2 separate regions of the Homo sapiens genome follow, and region 1 is linked to region 2. Evidence: fine-mapped QTL for protein levels in blood plasma. A gene starts in region 2. The other region holds a variant in brackets. All regions are shown on one strand. Distances are between the middles of the regions.

Region 1 (16,286 bases), 27 kb before region 2:
CCAAAAGGAAAGAAGCCTCCAAGATTCCTCCCATCACTGCATAAGGGCAGGACACCACAGCTGATTAGAGAATGGAGAGCCTTCACACAAGATAGAAAAGCTGGAGGGTTCCCAAACAAAGAGGAAGTCATATCTGGGGTAATAAATGAGAAGCAGGCCAGGCATGGTGGCTCACACCTGGAATCCAAGCACTTTGGGAGGCCAAGGTGGGAGGATCACTTGAGCCCAGGGATCATAGCCAGCCTGGGCAGCATAGTGAGACTTCATCGCTCCAAAATATTTTAAAAATTAGCTGGGTGTGGTGGCATTCACCTGTGGTCCCACCACTCAGGAGGCTGAAGTGGGAGGGTTGCTTGAGCCCAGGAGGTCAGGGCTGCAGTGAGCCATGATCATGCCACTGCACTCCAGCCTCGCCAGCATAGCAAGACCCTGTCTCAAAAAAAAAAAAAAAAAAAAAAAAAAAAAAGCAGCAGCAGGCATGTTGCAGGTAGTTTTAGATGAGTTACTTTACTGGAGAGAATATGAGAATACTTTATGAAATTTGAACAATGACATAAGTAAAGAAAGAGTTTTGCACTTTTGGTAATAAAGGCCATTAACCTGAGAGCTCCAGGACGATGAAGCCTGTGTTTCATCCACCACTCTATTTGCATCTGGCACCAGGTCCTGGTAAATACAGGACACTCTCAGCTTCAAATATATGTCACATTGTTCCTACTGACTATTGAAATATATTACCTCTGTTAATACTTTAACATTAAATGACAGAGAGGTAGGCAATGGAGTCGGACTGCCTGGCTCAAATCCTGGCTGTGTCACTTCCTAGATATGTGACTGCAGACTAGTTACTTGCCTCTATTTCCCCTACTATTGAACAGGCATGAAAACAGTACCTACTTCATAATTATCGTGAGAATTAAAGGGGTTAATATGTGTGAGGCACAAGAATTGTGCCTGGCATATAGGGAGTGCTTCATAATATATGAAATATTATTGTTGTTGTTGATTTTCAAACTGGCTCTCTCACCTGGAAGTAGCAGAGAATTTCCTTATTGGCCCACATGTCGTGATTGTGGGCTCAGGAAAAATGTTACCAGGCCTGCAGAAATTATGAGGCCTTTGATGGTTTGCCCCAGGCTTCTGTCTTTGAATAAAAGCACCACATTTCATAGCCCTGAGACTGAGAAGAACACCCCCATATGTTTTCCAGGGCTCTCCCCAACCTAATCTCCAACCTTGCTTTTTGCACTGTGGATTGTCAATTAATGGCAAACTGGAGTTCTCGGAGAACCCTCAGGGAAAACCCAGACAGATCTTGCTCACCTCACCTCCCACGGGTGGCATTTTGTTTTTTATTTAACTGAAGAATTTTTCAATGAAAATGGATTTATCTCCTTTTTAATTTTGTACAATCACCGCTAAATAAAACATTGATTTCTCTGAACAATTGTACCAAACTTTATGCACCATTAATATGACATTAACATTGCTTATGGTTATGTATTATAAGAGCAATAAAGAGGACAATATATGATCTCTAATGATTCAGTAAAAATGATGCAAATATCTCAACAAGAGCAAACAGCGTAACATTCATTTCTCCCTAGCACAAGAACAAGGAATAAAGAGACCAACCAAGGAAAAGTCCAAGGAGAAATTTAGAAATGGTGCATTAAAAGTTAATGGTTTTAAGGTCAGGTGCGGTGGCTCACACCTGTAATCCCAGCACTTTGCGAGGCCAAAGCGGTAGGATGACTTGAGGTCAGGGGTTCAAGACCAGCTTGGCCAACATGGTGAAACCCTGTCTCTACTAAAAATACAAAATTAGTCGGGCATGGTGGTGCTCACCTGTAATCCCAGCTATTCGGGAGGCTGAGGCAGGAGAATCGCTTGATCCCAGGAGGCAGAGGTTGTAGTGAGTCGAGATCTCGCCACTGCACTCCAGCCTGGGCGACAGGGTGAGACTCTGTCTCGATAAAAAGAAATAATAAAATGAAAGTTAATGATTTCAAAAAAGCCTTTTAAAAGCTCCGCCCCGCCGGAAGTTGAGTTTTCTGCAAGCCATAGGAGACAGCGCCACCTACCGGCCCCGAGATTTGCCCAGCCGCAGAAAGGGGCGGAAGGCCAGGGTAGGTTTGGGGGCAAAATGGCACAAAAGAGTTCAGCCTCAAACGGTTTTGGTGTTGATGCAATCTGGATGCCTGGTCACCTTCTCCATAGAGAGACTTGGAGCTTACTGGGGCTTCTTGTCCACAATGTGACTCTTGGCTTCTAGACTCTTGGAGGAAGGAATGGGAAATGATGTGATGTGACCTCGAGTTGGACCATTAGCCAACGCAGTGACCTGAAACAGTGGTTCTCAAACTCCACCGCACATTAGAAGCACCTGGGAGCGCAGGGCGTGGCGGGTGGCTCCTGGAATCCCAGCTACTCAGGAGGCTGAGCGGGGAAAATGGCTTGAGGCCGGAGTTAGAGCCTGCCATGAGCCATGATCGTGCCACTGCACTCCAGCCTGGGTGACAGAGGGAGACTCTGTCAAAAACAAAAACAAAACAAAACAAAACAAAAAAACGTGCAGGTGAGAGTTTAAATACTCCTGAGACTCAGGTCTGCCCTAGACTGATGTGCTCTGGAATGGGACCCAGGCATCAGTAACTTTTATACCTCCTCAGGGGATCCCAATGTGAAGCTAAGACCTGCCGCTGTCAGGGCAGCGGGCCATTCCTGTTGTTTCACCCAAAGCCAACCTCAGAGGACCTTCGGTCTAATGCGACAAGCCAGCAGTGTGACATGTGCGTTTTCTCGTCCTGTCTTAGGGCTGTGCCTAGAAGGTGCCGCCCTCAAGGTTGGAGACAGCTCTGCATAATAGTTCACTCCCCACTTAAAAAATAAAAATAAAAAAACCCAGCTTTGTGAAGGTATAATTGACATACACCAAAGTGTACATTTATAAAGTGTACAATTGGACAATGTTTGACATGTGTATACTTGTGAAACCAGTGCCACAATCAAGATAATGATCATATTCTTCAAGGTTGAGCTGCAAGAGTCCTGTTTTACACTCCCATTTCACAATTATTTAATACTTGTTCTATGCCAGGCATTGTGCTGGGTTAGAAGGAACCATGGATACAACCACTTCTCTGGGGGAACTGGTTACAGGACCAGTTGGGACATGAAGGAGGCAACTCTACTTGAGAGTACTGGGGTAGCCAGAGGAGAAAATGGTTTAGTTGATCTAGACAGATGGAGGTATTTATCAGGTGCTGTGGTCTAAATGTTTAGGTACCCTCAAGATTCATGTATTAAATCCTAAAGCCTGATATGATGCTATTAGGAGGTGGGACCTTTGGGAAGTTATTAGTTAATGAGGGTGGAGCCCTCATGGATGGGATTAATGTCCTTATAAAAGAGACCCCAGGCCAGGCGCAGTGGCTCACACCTGTAATCCCAGCACTTTGGGAGGCTGAGGCGGGTGGATCACAAGGTCAGGAGATAGAGACCATCCTGGCTAACATGGTGAAACCTCGTCTCTACTAAATATACAAAAAATTAGCCGGGCGTGATGGCTGCAGTAGTAGTCCCAGCTACTTGGGAGGCTGAGGCAGGAGAATTGCTTGAACCCAAGAGGCAGAGGTTGCAGTAAGCCAAGATCGCACCACTGTATTCCAGCCTGGGTGACAGAGCAAGACTCCATCAAAAAAACAAAACAAACAAAAAAAAAAACCCAGAGAGATCTCTTGCTCCTTCCAACATGCGAGGTTACAGTGAAAAGATGGCCATCTATGAGGAACTGGGTCCTCACCAGACACCAAATTGGCTGACACCTTGATCTTGGACTTCCCAGCCTCCAGAACTGTGAGAAATAACTTATGTTGTTTGTAAGCCACTCAGTCTGTGGTAGTTTGTAATACAGCTCAAACAGATTAAGACATTAGGTAGTTGAAGGAAACGGGCATTCCAAAATGGGAAAGCATGAGCATGAGGAAAAGCAAGAGGGAAAGCATGAGCAAAGGAATGGAGGCATGAAGAGATGATATGTTGGCTGGGCACGATGGCTCATGTCTGTAATCTCAGCACTTTGGGAGGCCAAGGCAGGTGGATTGCTTGAGCTCATGAATTCGAGACCAGCCTGGTGACATGGCAAAACCTCGTCTCTACAAAAACACAGAAATTAGCCAGGTGTGGTGGCAAGTGCCTGTAGTCCCAGCTACTCAGGAGGCTGAGGTGGGAGGATGGTTTAAGCCTGGGAGGCAGTTTGCAATGAGCCAAGATCACACCACTGCACTCCAGGCTGGGCAACAGAGCCAGACCTTGTCTCAAAAAAATAAAATAAAATAATAATAATAATAATAAATTAAAGAGGTGGTATGTTTAGGAAACAGCAGGTATGGCCAAAGTGGTAGTGCATCGTGGGGAGGGTCATGAGGCAAAGCCAGCACAATCAGCGGCAGTAACTGGATGTCTAGGAGTGCCATGCCACCAGGAGTCTGACTTTATTCTATGAGCTCTATTTCTCAGTGGATGACCCCTGAAAGCTTAAGCAAGGGAGTGTCACAATCAGATATGCATCGTAGAAAGTTCACTCTGACAGCCCTCCAAAGTGGCAGAACAATTAGTAAGAGAACCTTTGCAAAGTTACCAGCAAGCAGAAACAAATGAATTATAGGTCATATTGCACAATAATCAAAAAGAACTTTTTGAATCCAAATGCAAAAGCCATTTTCATAAACATTATACATATATATCTTTAGGAGATTATTTTTAGTCAAACAATAGCAATGCAAGTCTTTGAAGAATGGCCCAGGAAGCCCAGAATTAGTATGGCTCAGGACCTTTGAGAAGTGACAGGAGTTGGCATGCTCTGGTCCAAAGGGGGATCAGGAAGGGGGAAAGGCCTCTTTAGAAATAGCCTTCTACTAGTACTGAATCCAGAATCATATTTAAATACAAAGGGGGTAATATGCAGGTCAGAAATAGAGTCTGTGATGACAAAATACAGTGGCCAGCCAATTTTAAGTTCTGCCTGCAATAACTCTGCTGCTGTTAACTGATTGGTTTATGGCTAATGTCTTCAGTGTGGGCATTAATAGCTCATAAGAGTATGTTTCTTATATGTGATTCACCATTTAGCCATGAGAATACAAGAATAAACATAAGTGGTATCAGTGAGGATTTTTTGACTGCAAATAACAGGAAAAAACTACTCAAACTGGCCTTGTAGCAGAGGAAATTCCAGAGGCTTCAGGTATGGTTTGATCAAGGTGCCAGGTCCATTTCTCTCTGGTTCTCTCAGTTCTTCTCCTCTGTGTGTGTCAGCTTTGTCCCCAGCAAAACAGAAGCAGTTCAAGACTTCACACCCTCAAGCCCACTTTCCAGAAGAAGAAAGTTTCTCTTTCTCCAAACTTCCTACCAAAGTTTAGGCTTTATTCTAATTGTATCCACTTATGCCACACGTTCACTTTTAGGACGATTACTGTGGCAAGGAGGCATGGGATTTCGCTGATTGGCTTGAGCCAACCAGAGCCAACCTCTGTAGCTGGGAGCAGGATCAGCCCCACCCAAAATGCTCATCATCATGGGGTAGGAGTGGGATGTGCGTGGAGGAAGCAAATGTCTACTATGCAGTAGAACGTTATCTTGGGTAATCCAATAACCCCTAATAAGGATAGCAGATATCAGTCACTCCCATTTACCATGTGTCACGTTTGCTATTTAAAATGAGACTAACTGCTGTGTGCATCATCAAAACCCCCAAACTCAGCCTGGGCAACATAGTGAGACCCTGTCTCTAACAACAACAAAAAAAAATTAGCTGGGCATGACAGCACACTTCTGTAGCCCCACCTACTCAGGAGGCTTATATGGGAGGATTGTTTGAACCCAGGAGTTTGAGGCTACAGTGAGTCATGTTCACACTACTGCACTCCAGCCTGGGTGACAGAGCAAGACAGTGTCTCAAAAAAAAAAAAAAAAAAAAGAAAGAAAGAAAAAGAAATGAAAAAAAAGCCCCAGACACAAGGACACCATCTAACAAAGGCACTTTATTGCATTACCATTCACAATTAACAGTCAAGAACAAATAATAATAACAAATAAAATAACTTTTAAGAGGACAAGGCATTAGAAATAAAAAAGGACACTAATAACATTTGTAAAAGCTTGTACTGGATGTGGTTGCCCCCATTTGTGTGTGTGGTTGTGTGTGTGTGGTTGTGTGTTGGTGGCCACAGCTGAGCCTCTGTCACCAGAGAAGGCTGAGGCCCCAATGGCACACCTCAGAAACCTACACCCCGAGGCTGGACGGCTGGACTCCTGAGCACAAGCTCCCTCTCGCACCCTTTGCCAGACAGTTTGTCTCCAATTTCAAACTGACCTAAGGCTCTTACTCCTGGATTTTTTGTTTTTAAACCTTCTCCCAGCCAGTCTTCGGGAGGGCATGATTAGAGAAGTGCTCCTTTGCTGATGGAGGAGGGGACCTAAGGAAGAAGGTGGATCCCAGGTGCCTCCTCTCTAATTGATCCTCCCCACCCAGTTTCCTTTGCCTCTCTTCCTTCTACCAGGTCATGTTTTTTACTCTCTGCCCCTTCTGCCTCCTAGCATTTCAAAAACTGTAGAGTGCACCCCATAGTGGACATTTTTAGTCCAGGCCTTCTAATTAGCATCAAAAAGTTCCTGGATTCCCAGGCACGCCTCCTGAAAAAGCTGAGAGATATGTCTCTTTCCAGTCTTCTTGGGTGAGGCTAGGTTGCAAGCTCTGGGCTGTTCAAAGGTTGCCAGAATCTCTCCATTGGAGGGATAGAAGCAGTGTCCCTATTCTGACTTGTCAGAGAGTGAGCTTGTGACCCTTGAAAGATGGTGGGTATCCCTTCTCATCCCCTCGGACCTCCACAGTTGATGCGTATGTCTCCCAGGGGAATTAGGTCACTTAACTCAAGAGCAATGTTTGCCCAGGAGCAAGCAATGCTGGGGAGCTTTCCTCTAGATTGGAAATGGTTCTTGTTGCCCTACCAGGAAAAGAATTAAGAAAACAACCCTAACCATTGTCTCAGTACTTTGTACTGATTGAAGAAAACCACCTCTCTGACAAGCGCTAATAGCATCTACTACATTTAATGTCATAGATTCTTATTTAGCAAGTGAGCTGGATTCGTTGCAAACATTCACAACTTCCATTCAGAGAGGCTGGCAGATGTCAGATGGAAGAAAAACCCCGGAGGCCAGATCTTTACTGGTGCTCACTTCTCCATCAGTCTTTCTAAACACTCTAAATAATAGCTTGTACATTGGTTGGGGGCCATGGCGGGTTCCACATTCTTATGATTCTAGACAGAAAGAGAGAGGGAGAGACAATACTCTTAGAAAATACTCCAACAGAAACATATGAGATCGTTTAGATCTGTAAATTATTAACATTACTTTCATTAACATTATTTGTCTTCTTCAGCTTTATCCCATATTCTCCCTATCATTTCTCTCACGTCTCTTCCATTCCCCATCTCTTTCCCAGCTCCCTTTCTCCTCTTCCTTTACCATCTTCCTTCTTTCCATCTGTCTCCTGTCACTCTTCCTCCTAAAGTCTCTTACAGGCTTCCTTCTTTCAACATTTCATTCAATCACACTAAGCAGTGACAGCTATGATTATCCAATACAAACCCAGTGGGTACAAGCTGTTGTCCTTGAAAGTTCTCCCTAGAGAAATACAGTATCACCAGCCTAACTAGCTTTATCTCCTTTTTTAAAAAGCTATCTTTTATTATTATTATTTTTTGTAAAAATGGGGTCTCATTATTTGCCCAGGCTGGTCTCGAACTCTTGGGCTCAAGCAATTCTCCTGCTTCAGGCTCCCAAAGTGCTAGGAGTATGGGATGAGCCAACAAGCTAAGTTCCATTTCATCTCTTTAGAAGTGGACTGATGCCCAGTTCAGTGGCTCATGCCTGTAATCCCAGCACTTTGGAAGGACGAGGCGAGAGGATCACTTGAGCTTAGGAATTTGAGACCAGCCTGGGCAACATGGCAGAAACCCCTGTCTCTACAAAAAATACCAAAATTAGCCAGGCATAGCGGCATGTGCCTGTAGTCCCAGCTACTTGGGAGGCTGAGGTAGGAGGATCACTTAAGCCCAGGAGGTTGAGGCTACAGTGAGCCAAGATCGTACCACTGGACTCAAGTCTGGGTGACAGAGTGAGACCCTGTCTCAAAACAACAACAACAACAAATAGAACTTATATATATATATAGAGAGAGAGAGAGAGAGAGAGAGTTGCCTTGAGATCAAGCGGCAGGGAAAGAGAGCGTTGCCTTTACACAGCCTGGTGAAAAGGATCCCACAGAACTATGTTTACATCCAGTGTCCTTCCCTGGTCCTGGCTGAGGACCTAGGTCTTCAAACAGCCTGAGAAGTGTCATCATCATAATCTCTGGAGTCGTATTCATGGAGTTGGTAATCTAAAGGGACCTTAGGGGTATCTAAATTAAGCTGACCTTTTTACAGATGAGAAAATCAAAGGCCAGGGAAATTAAGTGATGTGTCTGTAGTCACATAGATGCTCAGAGTTACGACAGCAGGGAACTTCCTTTTTGATCTCTCTCTCTCTCTCTCTTTCAATTAAGAAAAAGAAAAAGAAAGCCTGCGGGGCAGCCAAGGATTGAAGATTCAGCAACCAGGTCTCTGCTCTGCCCTGGTGCATTCACTCCCAAAAGCAGGAGAAAAAGCCCACTGACTCACCTAATAGTCAGGGCGGGGCATGCTGCTGTG[T/G]CTTGAATAGGGATTTTGCATCTGGCTGTCTCTGGAGGCCGTTATCCTGACCTTAGGAAAGACGCTCCCTTCTGCTCCAAGATTGGTGAAGCCTGTCGACCGCAGTTTTAGATTTTGAAAGTCTTCGTCAATCAAGTTCTCTTCTTCAATATGCTTCGTTTTGTTATTTGATCTGTAATCAGTAAGAGGAATTAGGATTTGACAATGGCAGAAAGTTTCTTGAAGTAAATGTTAATGTTCTTTTTAAAAATATTTTTAAATTCTGAAATAATCTCACATTTATTTGTAAGTTACAAAATACATATATTACGGCGTTCTCACACACTTATCACCCAGATTCCCTAATTATTAACATTTCTGAACCAATTAAGAATAAGTTGCATAACCAAAGAACACTAACAGTTTTATGAAAGAATAAGTTGCAGACTTGATGCCCCACAAATAATGAAATAAAGCACTTCATTATTTTATTCAGTGTAGGTTTCCTAAGTTTAAGGTCATGAGCTCTGTGTAGCGACAAAACCTGGACTTCAATGCTGATCCAACATAACAATCTAATTCCACTGGCCTCATTCATATTTTGCTCATAATATTAGAAAATAATTTGAGATACAGCATTTCATTCAGCAAAGTCAACATCTAAGAATCACGTTGGTGGGTAAAATGAGTAAAACAAGTTCAAAGACTTGAAACGAGGCTGGGCTTGGTGGCTCACCTCTGTAATCCCAGCACTCTGGGAGGCCGTGGTGGGCAGATCACTTGAGGCCAGGAGTTCGAGACCAGCCTGGCTAACATGGTGAAACCTCGTCTCCACTAAAAATACAAAAATTAACCAGGCACAGTGGCATGTGCCTCTAGTCCCAGCTACTCGGGAGGCCGAGGCGGGAGAATCGCTTGAACCTGGGAGGTGGAGGTTGCAGCGAGCCAAGATCATGCCACTGCACTCCAGCCTGGGCGACAGACCAAGACTCTGTCTCAAAAAAAAAAAGAGAAAAAACAAGAACAAAATATTGTAGGAACCTAAAATCTGTTTATCCTGTCACATTATAGTGGAAAACTACCTATTTTGCCAAAATATAAGATATGAACTAAATGTTAGAAAACAGTAGCTTTAAAAAATCAAAGTGGATCCCCACTTGGCACATTGAGAATGGGAAAAAGATCACAGCATTTGCCTCCCTGTTAATGGGGGGACTTTAGTCTATCTAAATATTTGTTGAATGAATGAACTCTAGTGCCCCTTCCTTAAGAGAAGAGACCTTAAGGCACCAAGCTAATAGCCATGCAGAGATGACACGTGTGTGCTTGCGTGTGTGTGTGTGTGTGTGTGTGTGTGTGTGTATGTGAGACAGGGTCTTGCTCTGTCACCCAGGCTGGAGTGCAGTGGGGTAATCTTGGCTCACTGCAACCTCTGCCTCCCAGTTCAAGGAATTCTCCTGCCTCAGCCTCCTGAGTAGCAGGATTACAGGGGTGCCACCACCATGCCCGGCTAACGTGATAAACTTTCTTAAAAAAAGTTAAAAAAAAACAACAACCCAGGGGGTTCAGTTGAGGTTGATTTTAGACCATTTGCAGCAGAGTCCTGGACAGGGAAGTGACCTGATGAAAATTGTATTTGACAACTTCAGTGGAGTTAAATATTATTACATTAACAAAGAGTTTTTAATGACATAAGGAAATGGTTGCTATGTCATCTTACGGTGTTAAACCAAAAAAAACCTCAATCCAAAATTTTAAAAACACAAAAGACACAAAATTATGTATATAATATTATTTTAAAAGATAGAAATAAATCTGGAAGGTTATATCTCAAAATGTTAGTTGCCTCAGCATGGTGGGTTTTGTGAGTGATTTTTAAATTCCGCCCCTTTACCCACTTCTCTATTTTCTTGATTTTCTTCCATGGTCCTGCTATTGCCTATATAATAAGAAGACAATTAAGGTAAGGAAAAAAAGTCAGTGGTACTAGAAAGGCCTCTCCTTATCTCCCTTCTCTTGCCCAGGAGAGGATGAGTATGTTTGGAAACTAGAGAGTGTCATGCTGGTGGTCCTGTGCCGCAGGAAAAGGCCACTTCTGGCAGGTGTGATGGCTCATGCCTGTAATCCCAGCACTTTGGGAGGCCAAGGTGGGAGGATGGCTTGAGTTCAGGAGTTCGAGACCAACATGGGCAACATAGTGAGACCCCCCCATCTCTCTATAAAAAAAAAAAATTTAAAAAGGACACTTTCATCCCATACCTTGCTGTGACAATCAATGCAATTATCATGCTGAGAATGACAATGCCAGCGATGGTGCCCACAATAGTGAGGATCAGCTGAAATTCTGAAAGGAAGAAGAAAATAAGAACAGTCTCCAACAAGCTGGCCCCCAACTGTCTACTGCACAGGTTCGTGTATTCCCAGGGACTCCTAGCTGTGAAGACGATCAGGTTCTGGTCTCCAACCCTCCAGGCCAGGTTGGGTAGTTGGCCTATTTCCTTTAGCATTCCCTCCTCACACCTCCTAAACTGTGTCTTCAGAACTCAATTGGAAAGGGCAGCCCTGCCAGACAAAACACTGTAAATACAAAGGATGGTGGCAGGGTCTTCCTGGACTTTGTGGGGAGTGGAGTATCAGCTGAGGGCCACACCTCCCTCCTTACCTCTGCTGCCTTTGCCTGCCCTCCATACCTCACCTTACTGATAAGCTAAGGAAACTAGGTTGGAGTTAAATGTCACTGCTAGAGGAGCCAGCTAATGGCTTGATAATAACATCAATGAGGGAAGAGTCTAGACGTTCATTATCACCCATTCTCCTCTCCTAACTCTGCCCTGGTTGGCACTATTGACACTTGACTGCGGCTATGAGACACAATGTAACAGACACACCAGATTGCAAACACTTCATGTGAAAAAAATGTGAGAGAATTGGTTTATCTTTTTTTATTGATTCCATGTTGAAATGATATTTTGGATATATAGATTAAATAAAATATGTTCTTAAAATCAACCTCATCTGTTTCTTTTTACTTCTAACAATTTACTTGAAATTTCTAAAATTTCAAATGAAATGTGTAGCTCACATAATATTTCTATTGCACAACACTGCTCTAGACCTCTTCGTCTCTTTCTGCTATATGGCTTCCCCAAATGCTGCCTTTAATGTGAATTCATGGGGCCACAGACTGGCAAATCTGGGAAAGACCTCAAAGTTTGTCTGGTCCAAACTTCTCATTTTATAGATGTGGAAATTGAAAGCCCTGAAGAAAGACTTAGCAAATTATTCCTTGCAATAAAATACAGTAGAAATGGAGAATGTCACTCATCACTATCTTCATGGCTGGCAGGAAGGCTGACAGTAATATTTCCTTCATCTTGGAAGACTGATCTTTAGTTCATTATGTAAATTTTAGAATATAAAATAATTGAAAATTTAAAGTTAGTATTGTCTTAATCTGGTGGGGGTGGGGCATGGGAGGGTACAGAATTTGAATTTGCAGCAAAATATCCCAAACCAGTAAATAGCTCTGAGACAAAAGGATTTGAGTATTTAAATGTCTGGTTTCTAGGTCTGCTCTTCTATAACCACCAGAATTTTTGGAATTACTGGTCTTTTATCTCTAGTAGCAGCAGATAATGCATATGTAAGCTAATGCAGGAAATCAACATAATGCTAAGATGCCCTTCTCTGGTCTCAAGCAAGTCCAGAGGTGCCAGCCCACTCCTGGTGCTGAGTTCTGTTATTTTCTATGGCAGAGGGGCTGCTGTTCATAACCTAAGGGTGGGCATGGCATGGCAGGACCCAGAAGGCAAACTGGAGGCAGATGGTCTCTCTCTTTATGAAAGAGGACAGAGACTTTGAAGGACTGGGCAGGATGTTGAATGGGGTCACTATTGATTTCTCAGATGTTTAATAACTTGTTTATAATAGCAAGACTTTCATACTCACTGTCCTTACAGTCGAGTCCACTGTAGCCAAATGCACACCTGAAATACAGTGAGCAATAGGAAACAGTGTTAAAGAGCCCCTGTGGGGAGCATGTCAGAGTTCCCACCCCAATCTCCACCTCTTCCTTTCCATCTTCCTTTTATTCTGTCCTCCCTTGCTTTTTTTCCTCTTTCTTTTGCCTTCCTTACACTCTCATTCTTCCAGGAGACCACCTTCCATGGGGTTCTGGAAGGGTGAGGGGGGTACGCAATCTCATGCAGGCTCATTTGCTACTGACTGAACACTCCATCCTCCGGGCTTCAGGAAGATTCTGCAGTTCAGGCAAAGCTGAACCCAAGAGGCATGGAGGGTAGTGGGACCATCTCAGGCTGTGACGCCACATGGCTCTGCCACTTATTTGTTGCCCTGTGAGCTGGAGGATGTTATTTACAATCAGTTTCAGTTTCCTCACCTGAAAATGGAAATTAAGACATTCCTGACAATGTTGCTGTGTGATAGGTATTACCTAGTGTGTTTCCTGGAGCATAGAGAATGCTCAAAAACTATTGATGATGCTGGGCATGGTGGCTCACGCCTGTAATCCCAGCACTTTGGGAGGCCGAAGCAGGTGGATCATGAGGTCAGGAGTTCAAGACCAGCCTGGCCAAGATGATGAAACCCCGTCTCCACTAAAAATACAAAAATTAGCTGGACAGGGTGGCAGGCACCTGTAATCCCAGCTACTCGGGAGGCTGAGGCAGGAGAATCACTTGAACCTGGGGGGTGGAGGTTGCAGTGAGCCGAGATTGCACCATTGCACTGTAGCCTGGGGGACAGAGTGAGACTCCATCTCAAAAAAAAAAAAAAAAAAAAAAACTATTGATGATGACAATGATGAGGATGCTGTCTCTACCAACCTATGACAGCTTACCAGCTTCCTGACTCAACACCTATATACGTGTTGTAAGGTCTCTCTACTTTGCCTAGCTCCAGCTGTGGCAAGACAAAAACAAAGTTATTTTTCTTACTTTTGGCAGTTCCCATTAGCATCTTCCTGGTAGCCGGGCACGCACGCACACTCAGGGGCCCCACCACTCTTCTTTATTAAGCATTGCTTGTGCTGTGCGTTGCAGGCATCAGGACACTTGAGACTGGAAGCTTCAAAACAGAATGATTTCTGGGTAATTTTCAGAAACAATCTCTTTAACCCCAAAGTCACATGTGACAACATGACAGTGTCTTTCACATTGCTTTTTCTAGGTAAAATGAGATGCTTATTGACTCCACACATGATGTGCCCCCTGTGAAGCTGGACATGGGCTAGCAAAGGTCCCAGCCATGGTCCATATGTCTAAAGTCAGAAGTCAGATCACTCGGACTCTGAAATGCATGTGGAAACTAAAGGAGTGAATTTTTTATGTTGCAAAAGAAGAGAAAGTGATGTTATGAAGAACATTTAGAAGCAGGTGAAACACTTACCAACGCAGAAAGGGCTCTGTGGGTTAGGCCTTTGCAGGTCAGATTTGCAATCGCATGCTAAACCATTGAGGCAGTCATCCGCAGTCTGGTTACAGCCATAATAATCACACCGAAGGGTCACTGAGAAGCACAAATAGTTTAAAAATATATTCAGCATGACAATATGGATAAGGTAATTTGTGAAAATTACCCCACCCCATTGCTGTTATACTTTGCCTTTTAATAAGTTTTGGGGCCAAGTGCAGTGGCTCACAACTGTAATCCCAGCACTTTAGAAGGCCAAGGCAGGAGTATCGTTTGAGCCTAGGAGTTCAAGACCAGCCTGGGCAACACAGTGAAAATATTTAAAAGTTAGCTGGGCATGGTGGCAAGCTCCTGTAGTCCCAGCTACTCAGGAGACTGGAGTGGGAGGATCACTTGAGCCCAGAAGTTCAAGGTTACAGTGAGCCATGATCATGCCACTGCACTCCAACTTGAGCGAGAGTGAGACCTTGTCTCAAAATATAAATAAAAATAAATAAAGAAATAAAAATGGGTTGGAAGGCATTAGGGTTAAAAGATGAGTCTGGGCTGGGTGTGGTGGCTCACGTCTGTAATCTCAGCACTTTGGGAGGCCGAGGCTGGTGGATCACGAGGTCAGAAGTTTGAGACCAGCCTGACCAACATGGTGAAACCCCATCTCTGCTAAAAATACAAAAATTCGCTGGGTGTGGTGGCATGTGCCTGTAATATCAGCTACTCAGGAGGCTGAGGCAGGGGAATTGCTTGAACCTAGGAGGCGGAGGTTGCAGTGAGCCGAGATCGTGCCATTGCACTCCAGCTCTGGGTGACAGAGCAAGAATCCGTCTCGGGGAGAAAAAAAAAAATGATGAGTCTGAGAATGGAGTGGGGGAGAGAATAGGAGTAGGTAGAGTCATATGGCTCCTCTCTACTAAACATCCCAAACTGTAACTGAGCCTCCTTCATCACCTGCCACATGAAAATGCCTCTGATTAAAAGCCTAGAGCAAGAGATTCTACAATTTTGGGCAAAGAAAACAATTTATCTTTGCCACTGAAGCCGGAGAACAGGAAAGTGTTTTCCGGCCAGGTATGGTGGCTCACACCTGTAATCCCAGCACCTTGGGAGGCCAAGGCGGGCAGATCACCTGAGGTCAGGAGTTCGAGACCAGCCCAGCCAAAATGGCGAAAACCGTCTCTACTAAAAATACAAAAATTAGCTGGGCGTGGTGGCACATGCCTATAATCCCAGCTACTCGAGAGGCTGAGGCAGGAGAATCGCTTGAACCCGGGAGTTGGAGGTTGTGGTGAGCCAAGATCATCCCACTGCACTCCAGCCTGGGCAACAGTGTGAGACCCTGACAAACAAATGAACAAACAAAAAAGCAAACACTTAAGAGATGAAGAAAGGAGTCTTAGAAGGAGCAAAAAGAAGGATGAGGGAGGCACGAAGGCGATTAGGAGAATGGTGGATGCGGGCCCAGGAAGAAGGGAACATCTAGAAGGGAAGGATACTAGTGTCAAATGCTATAGAAAAGTCAAATAAGTTGTGGCTCAACAGAGGATTCTGGATTTGGCAACCAGGACTGAGAACCAGCTGCAAACACCTCTTCCCGGGACTGGCCCCAGTGGGTCACCTCTGGGGTGAGGAACTTCTGATGACTGTTATGGTGGGTTGACTGCAGTCATGACATCAATTTACTCACACCTTTCTGTACCCCTTGGGCAGGGCCCTTCCACACTGTGCTTGGTAATGCGAATTGCTTTAGCCAATTGGACAGTTGTAACTGTGATGTAAGCAGAGACTTGAGAAATATTTGTGCATTGAATCTTACCCTCTTGCTGCTCTTGAAATCCTTTGGATGGGTCTGCTGATAAGAGACCATGTGGAGCAGAGACAAACCATTTATACCCAGCAGCTAATGGCAGATGCTTAAGTGAGCCCAGCAGAGATCAATTAAGCCTGGCCCAGATCAGCACACTATCCACTTGAGCCCAGCTCAAATTCAGACCCATAGAATTCTAGGGTTGCAGTAAATAAATGATGGTTGTTTTTGGCCACTACCTTCGTAACACAGCAAACGCAAATTGCTACAGCTACATGGTGGGTTCGTGTGTGTCTAAAGGGGAAAATAGTACGGGT
Region 2 (12,204 bases):
ATCCTCCTGCCTCAGCCTCCCAAAGTGCTGGGATTGCAGATGTGACCCACCAGTCCCGCAGAAGAGTTAATGTTTTTTAAGTTGAATACTAAGAAGTAATATTATTTATGCCTGTAGTCACGTAACTGTAGATCAGGGTTTAATATACTTCAGACCATTCTCAGTGAGGACAATTGAGAATGCCACAAGGTGGCGCAGTGACTACCCAGAAATGGACTACTTTTGTCTTTCTGCACTTTAAGGCAACTGTCCCATTTTTTCATTACCTTGATAGATTGAGGGAGGGAAAGGTTAGGGTTGGGTAATTTAAAGAATAATAAAATAAAAATACCTCATTAAGTGCTTATTATACTTCTTCCAAAATTTTATTCTAGTAGTGTTTTCCCATTCACAATTCTAGATACATTGACTAAGAGTAAGATGAATAAGTGATCTTTGCCCTCTGAGCTATGATGGATATCAAAGTCGCATTTTCACAACTTTTAGGAACCCCTGGACACATGGAGTAGTAAACTCTAGGGATCCAGTGATCCATTTTCTTCCCCCACTCTTTTATTTTATTTTTTTTTTTTAGAGACATGGTCTTGTTCTGTCACACATGCTGGAGTGCAGTGGTGCCATAATAGCTCACTGCAGCGCTGAAACTCCTGGGCTCAAGTGATCCTCCCACCTTGGCCGCCCAAGTGTTAGGATAACAGGTGTAAGCCACCTTGCCTGGCCCAGTGATAAGTTTTCTAGAACTTTTCCTTGTCTCTAAGAACTCTGACCTTGACAATAGGTTAAAAAAATTATTGAAAGAAAAAGGTTTAGTGAGGAAGCAATTTCTAAACCTTAGGGTGCAGAGAACTGCAGAATATGCTTCCTGATTCCCCGATGGGTCTATGAGCCCCTTGAGGGCAGAGCCTGATTCTTCACCTTGAAGAGGGCTTGGCTAACATAGCCATTCAGAAGTGTTGAAGAGATCAGCAATTGCTCTTCCTAGGTAAGAAATACATCAGCAACTGGCAATGTTGACTGCCAGTCTTCCTATTCCTGCCACTCAGGATAGTTCTCATCTATCAAGCACTGGCCCTGTGCCCGACTGTACCTGTGAAGTAGACATAAGTGCCCACATTTGACAGAAGAGCCCACCAATACTCAGAAGGGTTAAGGAATTTGCCCAGAGGCAAAGCCAGGTCTGTGAGATGACAATGTCCTAACTATCACTTGATTAAAGTTATGGGGAAGGCCATCCATTTAATGAAAAAGCCAAGACCCCCGAGGAACAAACACAAGAAAAGCAAATAGAGAAAATTGGGGATCAGAATGAAAGCGGTGGAAATAGAAGTGACCTCCACGGTGCCCTCTATCATCGGAGTAGCAGTGAGAGTGGCCAGGGGCTGGCTCTCGCTGTGGAAAACTCTGGACAGAAGAAAAGGACTTGGCAGACTGTGGGTGCAAACAACCCCAACCCCACCAGACCCTGAATTTCATGCTTTGGGAATATTCATTCTCGGCCGATGCCAAAGAACCAACATGTTTCTGTAGATGTGCATAAAACAAATTGGGACTTCTTGAGAGGTTTTTGCAGGTCTTTGGAATTATGACAAGGAGTTTTGGACTTGGTGGCTTGTTTATTTTGGTTTTAAATTTCTGTTCACTAGGGAGAATACATTTCAGAATGCTCAATTAGTTTTAATAAATGAGACACATTCCAAGCTGACAGCAATTCATTGCTGTGAATAGCTACGATTTTTTTTTAAACTAAAATACACTTGTGTGTGTCTATGTGTATATATGTGTTTTATCTGAGGGTTGTATAGATTTCAGGGAAGACAGCTTAGAGCTGATATCCCAGGCTTAAATTATCTAGTAAAAATACCCAAGAGGAACTGTAAAATAACCTATTTTGTTCAATCTATAGATAACAGAAATATATGAAGACATCTGTGCAGTAGAAATAACTTTAGTCTTTTTATTTCCTTAGGTCCTAAAGCTTCTAAATAACACAAGGATAGCACAACGTCCACAGAGGTACAAATCATAGGTTTCAATGGGAAAATATATGCCCTGACCTGGTTTCTTTCTGGGGAACACTCCATAATCACCACCCCTGTCCAGGGCACACCTATAACTGCTTTATTCAAAGCTAGCTGAAAGTCACAATCAAACGCCTTTCTCCCAGATCTGAATTCTTCATTATGATGAGATGTTGGTTCCCAAAGGCACTCATCAGATTCTGTGGAATAATGCAGTCCTAGTCTCTCAGAGAAAGCAAAAACAACCTGGGAAGTTTTGCCTGTTAAAGGCTCTTCAAATGTCACTGGCACATTTTTCATTTGTTTCAGTAAATGCTTGTGCGGGGGTTCTTGCAGTCAAGGTGCTATACAAGGCATAGGGGTGAGGAGGAACGTAAAGGTGTACAAGACACACTTCCTGCCCTTGGTTGCTCAGAATCTGAGATGGAACTCATGTTTGAAGTAGTGATTCCTTACACACACCTCCAAAATCCTTAACGTTACATTAAAAAGCAACTTTTTAAAAATTTTCAGGCCAGGAGCGGTGGCTCATGTCTGTAATCCCGGCACTTCGGGAGGCTGAGGTGGGTGGATCATGAGATCAAGAGATTGTGACCATCCTGGCCAACATGATGAAACCCTGTCTCTACTAAAAATACAAAAATTATCTGGGCATGGTGGCACACGCCTGTAGTCCCAACTACTTGGGAGGCTGAGACAGGAGAATTGGTTGAACCCAGGAGGCAGAGGTTGCAGCGAGCCAAGATCGTGACAACTGCACTCCAGCCTGGCAACAGAGCGAGACTCTGTCTCAAAAAAAAAAAAAAGCAACTTTTTAAAAATTTTCAGGCCAGGCGCGGTGGCTCATGCCTGTAATCCCAGCAGTTTGGGAGGCCGAGGCGGGCAGATCACCTGAGGTCAGGAGTTTGGGATCAGCCTGGCCAACATGATGAAACGCCATCTCTACCAAAAATGCAAAAATTAGCTGGGCGTGGTGGCAGGCACCTATAATCCCAGCCACTCGGGAAACTGAGGCAGGAGAATCACTTGAACCTGGGAGGCAGAGGTTGCAGTGAGCTGAGATAGTGCCATTGCACTCCAGCCTGGGCGACAAGAGCAAAACTCCATCTCAAAAAGTAATATAAGGCCAGGCGCGGTGGCTCACGCCTGTAATCCCAGAACTTTGGGAGGCCAAGGCGGGCGGATCATGAGGTCAGGAGTTCGAGAACAGCCTGGCCAATGTAGTGAAACCCCGTCTCTACTAAAAATACAAAAAAATTAGCCAGGTGTGGTAGTGAGCACCTGTAATCCCAGCTACTTGGGAAGCTGAGGCAGGAGAATTGCTTGAACCTGGCAGGCGGAGGTTGCAGTGAGCCAAGATGGCGCCATTGCACTCCAGCCTGGGCAACAAGAACAAAACTCTGTCTCAAAATAAATAAATAAATAATAAAATAAATATTTTTTTCAAAAGCAAACCTTAGTAGCCACAAAACTGTCAGTATTAATATATCTGGAGGTAGATGGGTGGGAAGTCAGATTGGATGCTCAATTTTTATTTCATATACATCTGTATTGTTTGGATTTGTTACAGTGGGTCTGCATTACTTGTATAACTTTTTTAAACAAAGAAGAGGAAATCAAAACCAAAGTTTGAAAATCAGATCCAGGCTGGGCGTGGTGGCTCACGCCTGTAATCCCAGCACTTTGGGAGGCCAAGGCAGGTGGATCTCCTGAGGTCAAGAGTCTGAGACCAGCCTAGCCAACATGGTGAAACCCCATCTCTACTAAAAATACAAAAATTAGCCAGGTGTGGTGGCAGGTGCCTGTAATCCCAGCTAGTCTGGAGGCTGAGGCAGGAGAATCGCTTGAACCTGGGAGGCGGAGGTTGCAGTAAGCAGAGATCGTGCCATTGCACTCCAGCCTGGGCGACAAGAGTGAAACTCGGTCTCAAAAAAAAAAAAAGAAAGAAAGAAAAGAAAATCAGATCCAAGTGCAGACATGACAAAAAGGGAAATCATTTATTAAGCCCCTATGTGCCAGGCAGTATCCCGGCACATCAGGCTCTTTGTCTCATTTAATCCTCTCAGTCACTCTTCAGTATAGGGATTTCCCCTCTATTGCTACACAGGAAGACACTGAGGGTCAGAGACACCCCACAGCTAATAAGTGGTGGCATGCCATCTGAATCCCTGCTTGCCCTACTTTTGCCCTTCCCCCTGGGTTCTCTGGGTCAAGAAACATCTCCATTCCCCTAAGGTCCCTTGAGCCTCAATGATTCCTGATTCCCTTAACTCTCTATTCATCTCCTTGTCCCCTCCCAGCCAACTTTCCCCTTTCTACCGCCCTTCTATTCTATTTTTAAAAAGTCAAGCCTTTTTTAACAGTGGCTCCTGAAAGTCATACAAGCCTCACCAATTCTTCCTTTGTCCTGAAGGCTTGGACCTAGCATCTGCCCCCAAGGTTGGCAGGAGAGATCTGGTGAGCCCTCCCCTCCTGTGCAGCTAGCCTTCTCCAACCTTCCAGCATTAAGAGCTTGAAACCAGCTCTCAAAAAACTCTAATCCTGATGCCATTCATTCCAGTTCTCTGAAAGGGCTTAATTTCTCTTCATACATCTGCCTTATCAAATACTTTCTTCCTTTCTGCAAGCAGCTTCTAGATTTCAACTCATTGAACCTGAAGGAAATAAAAATATTTCACCCCCAAATATAGCTCCATGATATAATGAGTATTTTAAATTAAAAACTCTTAGAGGTCAACAAGCGCTGTAAGGACTGATCCACCAAAGAAGAACTATTGCTCCTGTTCCCCTCCCTGTTATGTCATTATCCACTACAGGAAAGAAGACCGAGAAGGAAACCACCCCTGAGCTGACCCTTCATCAAGATAAGGACTGTCTCCAAGGATCTTTAAATTCCAAGGAGAATTATCTACAAGTTCATTTTTGTTCCCAGATCCAATTATTCTCCCTAATAATCATTTATTGCCCCTCAACAGAATTCCTCTTCTCCCTTCTTCCATAACTTGTTTTACCAAGATCCAAGCCCCCTTTCTTTCTGTAACCTCAAGATGGTGTATAAGCTTCTATACCTCATCAGGAAGTTGGGTGTTCATGCTGAAGGTTCCTGGGTACACACATTAAATACAGTTGTATGCCTTTTTTCCTATTAGTCCATCTACTTCATGCCAGTGATTTTTCTGCAAAATTTTAGGAAGCCAATTGGCCTCCACAACCCTCACCTCTCAACATACTGCTGACCTCACCCACATGTGGCCCATAGAACCCTTCCTAACTCAGAACAGAGAGTACATGTCTGAAGTCTAATCAACGTGACAATTACTCCCTATGGTTTAGCATTCTCAAATTCAAGTACATTTGTGAAAGGAGGCTTTTTGCTGTGGTCAGCTCTCTGATTATCATGAGAGGGGATCCAGAACGCTATAGTAGAGAACTGGGTCCTTGCAACCTACTTAGTCCTTCTTATCTGGCCTCAGGAACTCTCAAAGAGAAACCTCTGGTTTGCTGAGCCCCCAGATCTCACTCCATAGACCACTTCTTCCCCCCACCCCTACAAGATGGAGTCTCGCTCTGTCACTCCGTGTCATCTCAGCTCACTGCAACCTCCACTTCCCGAGTTCAAGCGATTCTTTCTGCCTCAGCCTCCTGAGTAGCTGAGACTACAGGTGCCCACCGCCACACCTGGCTAATTTTTTTGTATTTTTAGTAGAGATGGAGTTTCACCATGTTGGCCAGGGTGGTTTCAAACTCCTGACCTCAAGTGATCCATCTGCCTCGGCCTCCCATATTGCTGAGATTACAGGCGTGAGCCACCGCGCCCAGCCCACAGACCACTTTTGCTATTGCTCTATCTTCCCCATCACAGGATAAAATGTCTGTGTCTTTGAGCTGAGCTGGAGAGGAAACTTCATTTATAAAATAGACCATGTGCTGGGCTGGGAGAATTGGTAGCTATAGGCCTGCTGATTCTACCTCAAAGACAACATACATGATTGGAAGAATTAAAATGTAAAAATATTCCTTACCTGTGTTTACAGAAAGGAGAGCAAGAAGAGTAAGATGAATGATGGCTTTCATTTTAGCTGTTCTTGCTTGGTAATCTGAGGAGGAAATGATTTCCCTTCCTGGCTACCTTTCGTTTTAACTGTCTTTCGGGTACAAAGTCCAGTCATTAATTGACGTCAAACCACAGAAAGGCAATTATAGCTAGCATTTGGCCAAATACCATAGATCTCTTCCGAGCTTTTGAGATAGAAGAGGTGGAGCTGGCCTTACGAATCATTTTTCTGACTCAAAGCCCAAAATAAGTCAGGACATTCCAAATATCCTTGTGAGGTTGGTGGCACATGAGTTTGGTTAATCTCTTGATATCTCAAATGTCTCCAAGCCGCCATCTTTTAGGAGGTCACCATTCCATTAAACATTCAATAACAAACTGTGCTCTACTCACCCACATATGAGTGCAGGAAACCACTTTCCTCCAGCTGTAGTTCTGAGAATCCCTGAAGAGGACTTACATGTTTCCCAAAATTATTAGTTGCTTAACTTTTGTCACTGTATGCTGGGGACTACCATTCCGGGCCTCTCTGATGGTCATGTCTAGCAACTTTGTAATCACATCTCCAAGCTTCTGTGACTCTACCTGGATACAGCCCCCAATAAAGTTCCCAAGCACAATGGACATCACATCATGGCATTTAACCTAACTTTACTGAAGTCTTGTGGGTGACTGGTGTGTTGGGGAGTTGGCAATAAAGTACAGAAAAGAGAAAACTTAGAACAGCTGATTTGATCTCTCTGCTCCTGGCCACTCATTGGGCAGGCCCCACTTCTCAGTTCCCTTTCTCACCCTCTCTCTAGTTCCTCAGCCCCTCACCTCTCACCATGTGTCAGGAACCAGCTTTACTGCTTGGATTTGGGTCTTCTTAATCTAATTTTCCCTCCTTAAAGTCCAGGGCCCCAACTCTACTGTGTCTAGCCCCAGCCAGAGGAATATAAACTAATGATACCTTGTGAGTTGTGGCTAGAGTTTTGAGTTTAAGTTTTTTTTTTTTTTTTTTTTTTTTTTTGAGACAGAGTCTCACTCTGTCGCCCAGGCTGAAGTGCAGTGGCACGATCTCAGCTCACTGCAACCTCTGCCTCCAGGGCTCAAGTGATCCTCCTGCCTCAGTCACCCAAGTAGCTGGGATTACAGGCATACACCACAATGCTTGGCTGATTTTTGTATTTTCAGAAGAGATGGGGTTTTGTCATGTTGTCCAGGCTGGTCTCAAACTCTTAGACTCAAGCAATCCCCAACCACAGCCTCCCAAAGTGCTGTGATTACAAGCGTGTGCCACCATACCTGGCCTTTGGGTTTAAATTTTAACCCTGACCTTGATGAAAACAAAACATTTTTGTATGATCGCCCAGCAGATAAGCTGCTTATTGTCCTAGAGTCTCCATTCAAGAATAAGACAGGGGTTTGTTCTTACATGGCTGAGAGGTCCATTTAAACACTTTTTCCAAAGCAAAGACACTTCTAAGGCCCATTATGTTATGCTATTATTCTCAGCTTGAATAACTCCTGGCATCAGGATTTAAACAAAGGCTTGTTTTTCTTTTCTTTTTAAACTAGCTTTATTGAGCTATAATTTATGTCAATAAACTGTATCTATTTACAGTGTACAGTTCAACGAATTTTGATTGATGTATATACATGTGTAGCTACCGTTGCAACCAAGATACCGAGCATTCCCAACACACCCTTTGGGACTTTCCTCTTGTCCCTTTTTAGTGCTACATCCCCTATACTCCACCCCAACCCCAGGTAACCATTGATCTGCTTTCTGTCTCTATAAATTAGTCTGCATTTTCTAGCATTTTATGTAAATGGAATCATACAGATGTAGTTTTTTGTTTTGTTTTGTTTTTTGAGCCAGTTTCTTTCACTTATAACCATTTTGAGACTCATCCTTGCTGTGTGAATTCATAGTTTGTTTCTTCTTATATCTGAACACTATTCCACTGTATCAATGTACCATGGCGTGTTTGGTAATTCATCTGTCGATGGACATTTGAGTTGTTTCTAGTTTTGACTATTACAAACAAAAAGATTATAAATAAGGCCAGGTGTGGTGGTTCATACCTGTAATCCCAGCACTTTGGGAAGCTGAGGCAGGTGGATCACCTGAGATCAGGAGCTGGAGATCAGCCTGGCCAATGTGGCGAAACCTCATCTGTACTAAAAATACAAAAATTAGCCAGGCATGGTGGCAGGCACCTGTAACCCCAGCTACTCAGGAGGTTGAGGCAGGAGAATCCCTTGAACCCCGGAAGTATTATTTGCAGTGAGCCAAGATCACGTCACTGCACTCCAGCCTGGGCAACAGAGCGGGACTTCATCTCGAGAAAAAAAAAAAAGTTATAAGTATTCATGTACAAGTTTTTGTATGAACATACACTTTCATTTCTTTAGGGTAAATATTTAGAATGGAATGGCTGCATCACATGGTAGCTATATAACTTTTTAATAAATGGTCAAATGGTTTTCCTAAGTTGTTATGCCATTTTACATCAGCAATATATGAGAATTCCAGTTGTTCCCTATCCTTGCCAACACTTGGTATTGTCCGTCTTTATATTAGCTACCCTAAAGGGTATGTAGTGGCATCTCACTTTTGTTTTAATTTGCATCTCCTGATGACAAATGATGTTGAACATCATTTTATGTGCATATTAGTCACTCGTGTCTCTTCTTTTGTAAAGTACCTGTTCAAATAATTTGCACATTGTATCGTTGAATTGGTTTTCTTCTTGGTTTTTAATGGTAAAAGTTCTTTACATATGTATTGCAAATCTTTTCTCCTTTTCTGTCATTTTTATATGGCATTTTAAACTTACTATATTCACTTTATAAAAGCCTAACCAGGAATCTAGAAAAATTGAAAAAGTGGCCTGGGGTCACATAAGTAGCTGCAGGATCTCAAATGCAGGGTCTCAAATCCTGTCTCCTAAACTGGGAGAAGCCTATCACACCCCATCATGTCTTAGATTCAAGATATCAAGTGAGTAGCGCCCACAGTGCTCTATCACTAATGTCTACTGATGCCACCATATTACAACAGTGTCAATATTTCCATGGTTTTCTATATTACTTATCTGCTGAGCATAGAATGAAAAGTATAACCAGGAAGGCATGGAGTACTGCCAAGCATCTGGCTCCCTGACTCTTCCCTGGCCTTATCATCTGGAAAAATATGGGCAGCCAGAAAGTCAGGCAGTCCTCAAAGTATAAATCAGCAATCACCGGTATGCCCGCTCCTAAAGCATCCACACAGGACTTCAGTACTGCAGGATGACAGAGACAATACACAGAGCTTTCATGAGGGAAACTTCTTCTTCCTCAGGGCTGATGTTTCCTCACTAATGGAGGGAGTTTAATTCCTGAAACACTCCTGGCCTCTTGGCATGTCTTTATTCATTTTGCCCTAAAGGAAGAGTAGTGACTTATTTCAGAATAAACTGGGAATACTCACCTCAGATCCTGCAGTTTCCATTTGGGGAGATAACCTGGATTCAGGATTGTTGTGCCCAAGAAGGTAAGGATCCAGAAGGAGGGAGCCCTAAGCCACATTCTCAAAAATAAGCTTCTATAAAAGTAATATTTTGTCTCCATCTGTTGTACTCTGTGTTTTACTTCTCACAGAACTCAAAACCTGGATAGGAAAAAGGGTTGATATTTATTAGTATGAAATGGCTAAATTCTAAGTATTTATCTATAAGTCAAGAACACAGACTCCATTTTCCCACAGAAACAATGTTATATGTTGGTAACGTTGTCACCAAGTCAGCTAAAAAAAAAAAGCTGTTTACCCATAATTACCTGGTTGCAAAAGAACTATTGTTCAGGGTGAGCTTTTCAATAATTCTATTGACTATGCAGAGGAATGGGACATGCCCATTAATCTAAAGCAATATCCAGTTATTTAGGCATAAACTCAAGAGAGCTATATCAGAGCCATTTAGAATTAGAATTTGATCCATCAAGAGCCTCTCTAGCCAGGTGAGGTGGCTCACATCTGTAATCCCAGCACTTTGGGAGGCCAAAGTGGGAGGGTTGCTTGAGCCCAGGAGTTTGAGACCAGCCTAAGCAATATAGTGAGACCTTGTCTCTACAAAACAATTTTAAAATAATTATCTTAACATGGTAATGCATGCCTGTAGTACCAGATACTTGGGAGGCTGAGGCAGGAGGATCCCTTGAACCCTGGAGGCGGAGGTTGCAGTGATCCGAGATTGCACTGCTGCACCACGGCATGGGCGAGAGAGCGAGACCCTGTCTCAAACAAAAGAGCTCCTCTTTGGCTACTTTGATTCTGCAACACTGCAGTACCATGATAAGGCTCTAGAGGATCATTAAAACATAAAATTCTATCAAGATTAAATAGTTAGACCCAAAGATTATTTTCTGTCTATAGAACCAAATGTAAATACATGTTAAGCTCCTATCTCCTTCTCACTAATTCCAGCCCCTCAATAGAGGTGTGAGTATAGCCTTCCCAGAGTCACTACTACCATTTACGGATATCACATTTAGATACTACATGAAGCTGATCAGCATTTTCCTCTCTAATTCAGAAGACCATTCCCAGAGAAATGACTTGTGGAATGCAATATTCCCAACTCAAATGTCTAATTGATGACACATTGACAGAACCATTTCCACTCTTGCTTTTTATACCCTCTGAAATTAACTTTTCAGTGAATGGTTGCTTTACATGAGTAATGTTCAGGAGGGGGCTGTTCAGTCACTCCCAGGTACTCGAGGCATCTCTGCACATCCATCAGGTATCGAAGATGAAGCAGTGAACAAGATGATGAAGGTCTCTGCTCTCCTGAAGCTTCTGTGAGATCATGGGTAGTGGAGGTCGGCAAAAAAAGTAATTAAATACAATGATTTTAGAGAGTGGTCAATGCTCTGAAGAAAATAAAACACAACAATGGGATAGTGACTTGTGGGGTATGAGGTGCTACTTTAAATAGGATGGTCAGCAAAACCTTCTTGCAGGAGCTGATATCGGAACTGAGAGCTGCTATTGAAGGGAAGCCTGCCATATAAACATCAGAAAAAGGGCATTCCAGCTAGAAAAGTAGTAAGTGCAAAGGCCTGAGGCCAGAACAAGTCTGGTGTGTTTGAAGAGCACCATGATTTAGGAGGAGACTGGGGGGAGATGTTGTCAGAGAGGCAGGCTGGGGCCTGATCCTACAGGATCTTAGAGGCTGTGGAAAGGAATGTGGATTTTATTCTAAGCACAATGGCAGAAGCCATGGGAACATTTAAGCAGGAGAACGACAGGCCAGATCTTCCTTGGGGGCCTTATCTAAAGGAGCTGGTCTACTCGCCTGACCATCCCACCTCAGTTCGTTTCCTCCATAGCCCTCATCACAATATGTAATTACTTTGTCTCTTTGCTGGTTTAGCTACCTGTTGCCTAACTTCCATGAGAGTTTCTCTTCCCTGTCCACTCCTCTGTCTCCAGCATCCAGAACAGCTGGCACATGGCAGGTGCTCAGTAAAGATTTATGGAAGAAAGGAAGGAATGAATGAAGGCCGTCCGATTTGTTCTAGGTGCAGGGAACAGGGAATGCAAAGAAATAAGACACAGTTTGGGGTCTTCAGACCCACAGTGCATTCAGACAATTTATCTTCCAAAAGTTGGTTGTCATGATCAAATTATTCAAAAGAGAAAATATTATTAGTAAGTAAATATGTGGGGGAAGAATATTTAGCTTTTTACTCATCTTTTTTTGTTTGTTTGTTTGTTTTGAGAGGGAGTCTCGCTTTGTCACCCAGGCTGGAGTGCAGTGGCGCAATCTCGGCTCACTGCAAGCTCCGCCTCCTGGGTTCATGCCATTCTCCTGCCTCAGCCTCTCGAGTAGCTGGGATTACAGGCGCCCGCCACCACACCTGGCTAATTTTTTTATTTTTATTTTTTAGTAGAGATGGGGTTTCACCGTGTTAGCCAGGATGGTCTCAATGTCCTGACCTCGTGATCCACCCGCCTCGGCCTCCCAAAGCGCTGGGATCATAGGTGTGAGCCACTGTGCCCGGCCTTTACTCATCTTAAAGATGTTACAACTAAAACAAAAGTGAGATTATATTTTACCTCTTTTTTTTTATTTTAATTTTTTTTTTTTTGAGATGGAG

Evidence for each region. A credible set is the group of variants that fine-mapping cannot tell apart. PIP is the chance, under the fine-mapping model, that this variant and not a neighbour inherited with it causes the effect. The UK Biobank Pharma Proteomics Project read protein levels with antibody pairs (Olink). The fine-mapping took linkage between variants from a reference panel, not from the people measured, so its PIPs are less certain.
Region 1: its variant is the best candidate, but not a certain one, in a credible set for the plasma level of the MUC13 protein (UK Biobank, PIP 0.72). The variant lies in the coding sequence of MUC13. If it changes the protein, the assay may bind it differently, which can mimic a change of level.

Annotation. Positions count from the first base shown.
Region 1 is chr3:124,899,418-124,915,703 of GRCh38, forward strand. MUC13 (mucin 13, cell surface associated) reads right to left here. Exons shown (of 12, transcript NM_033049.4): 7 at 14,145-14,264; 8 at 13,694-13,823; 9 at 12,687-12,724; 10 at 10,998-11,082; 11 at 8,730-8,931; 12 at 6,025-7,325. The coding sequence ends at 8,730. It also overlaps a transcript of ITGB5 not described here. Among named protein-coding and RNA genes, the nearest start is that of ITGB5, 20 kb to the left of the region's middle. RefSeq lists an enhancer at 8,353-8,854. The variant T/G (reference allele first, on the strand shown) is at 8,760.
Region 2 is chr3:124,928,621-124,940,824 of GRCh38, forward strand. MUC13 (mucin 13, cell surface associated) reads right to left here and starts at 6,131. Exons shown (of 12, transcript NM_033049.4): 1 at 6,041-6,131. The coding sequence starts at 6,092.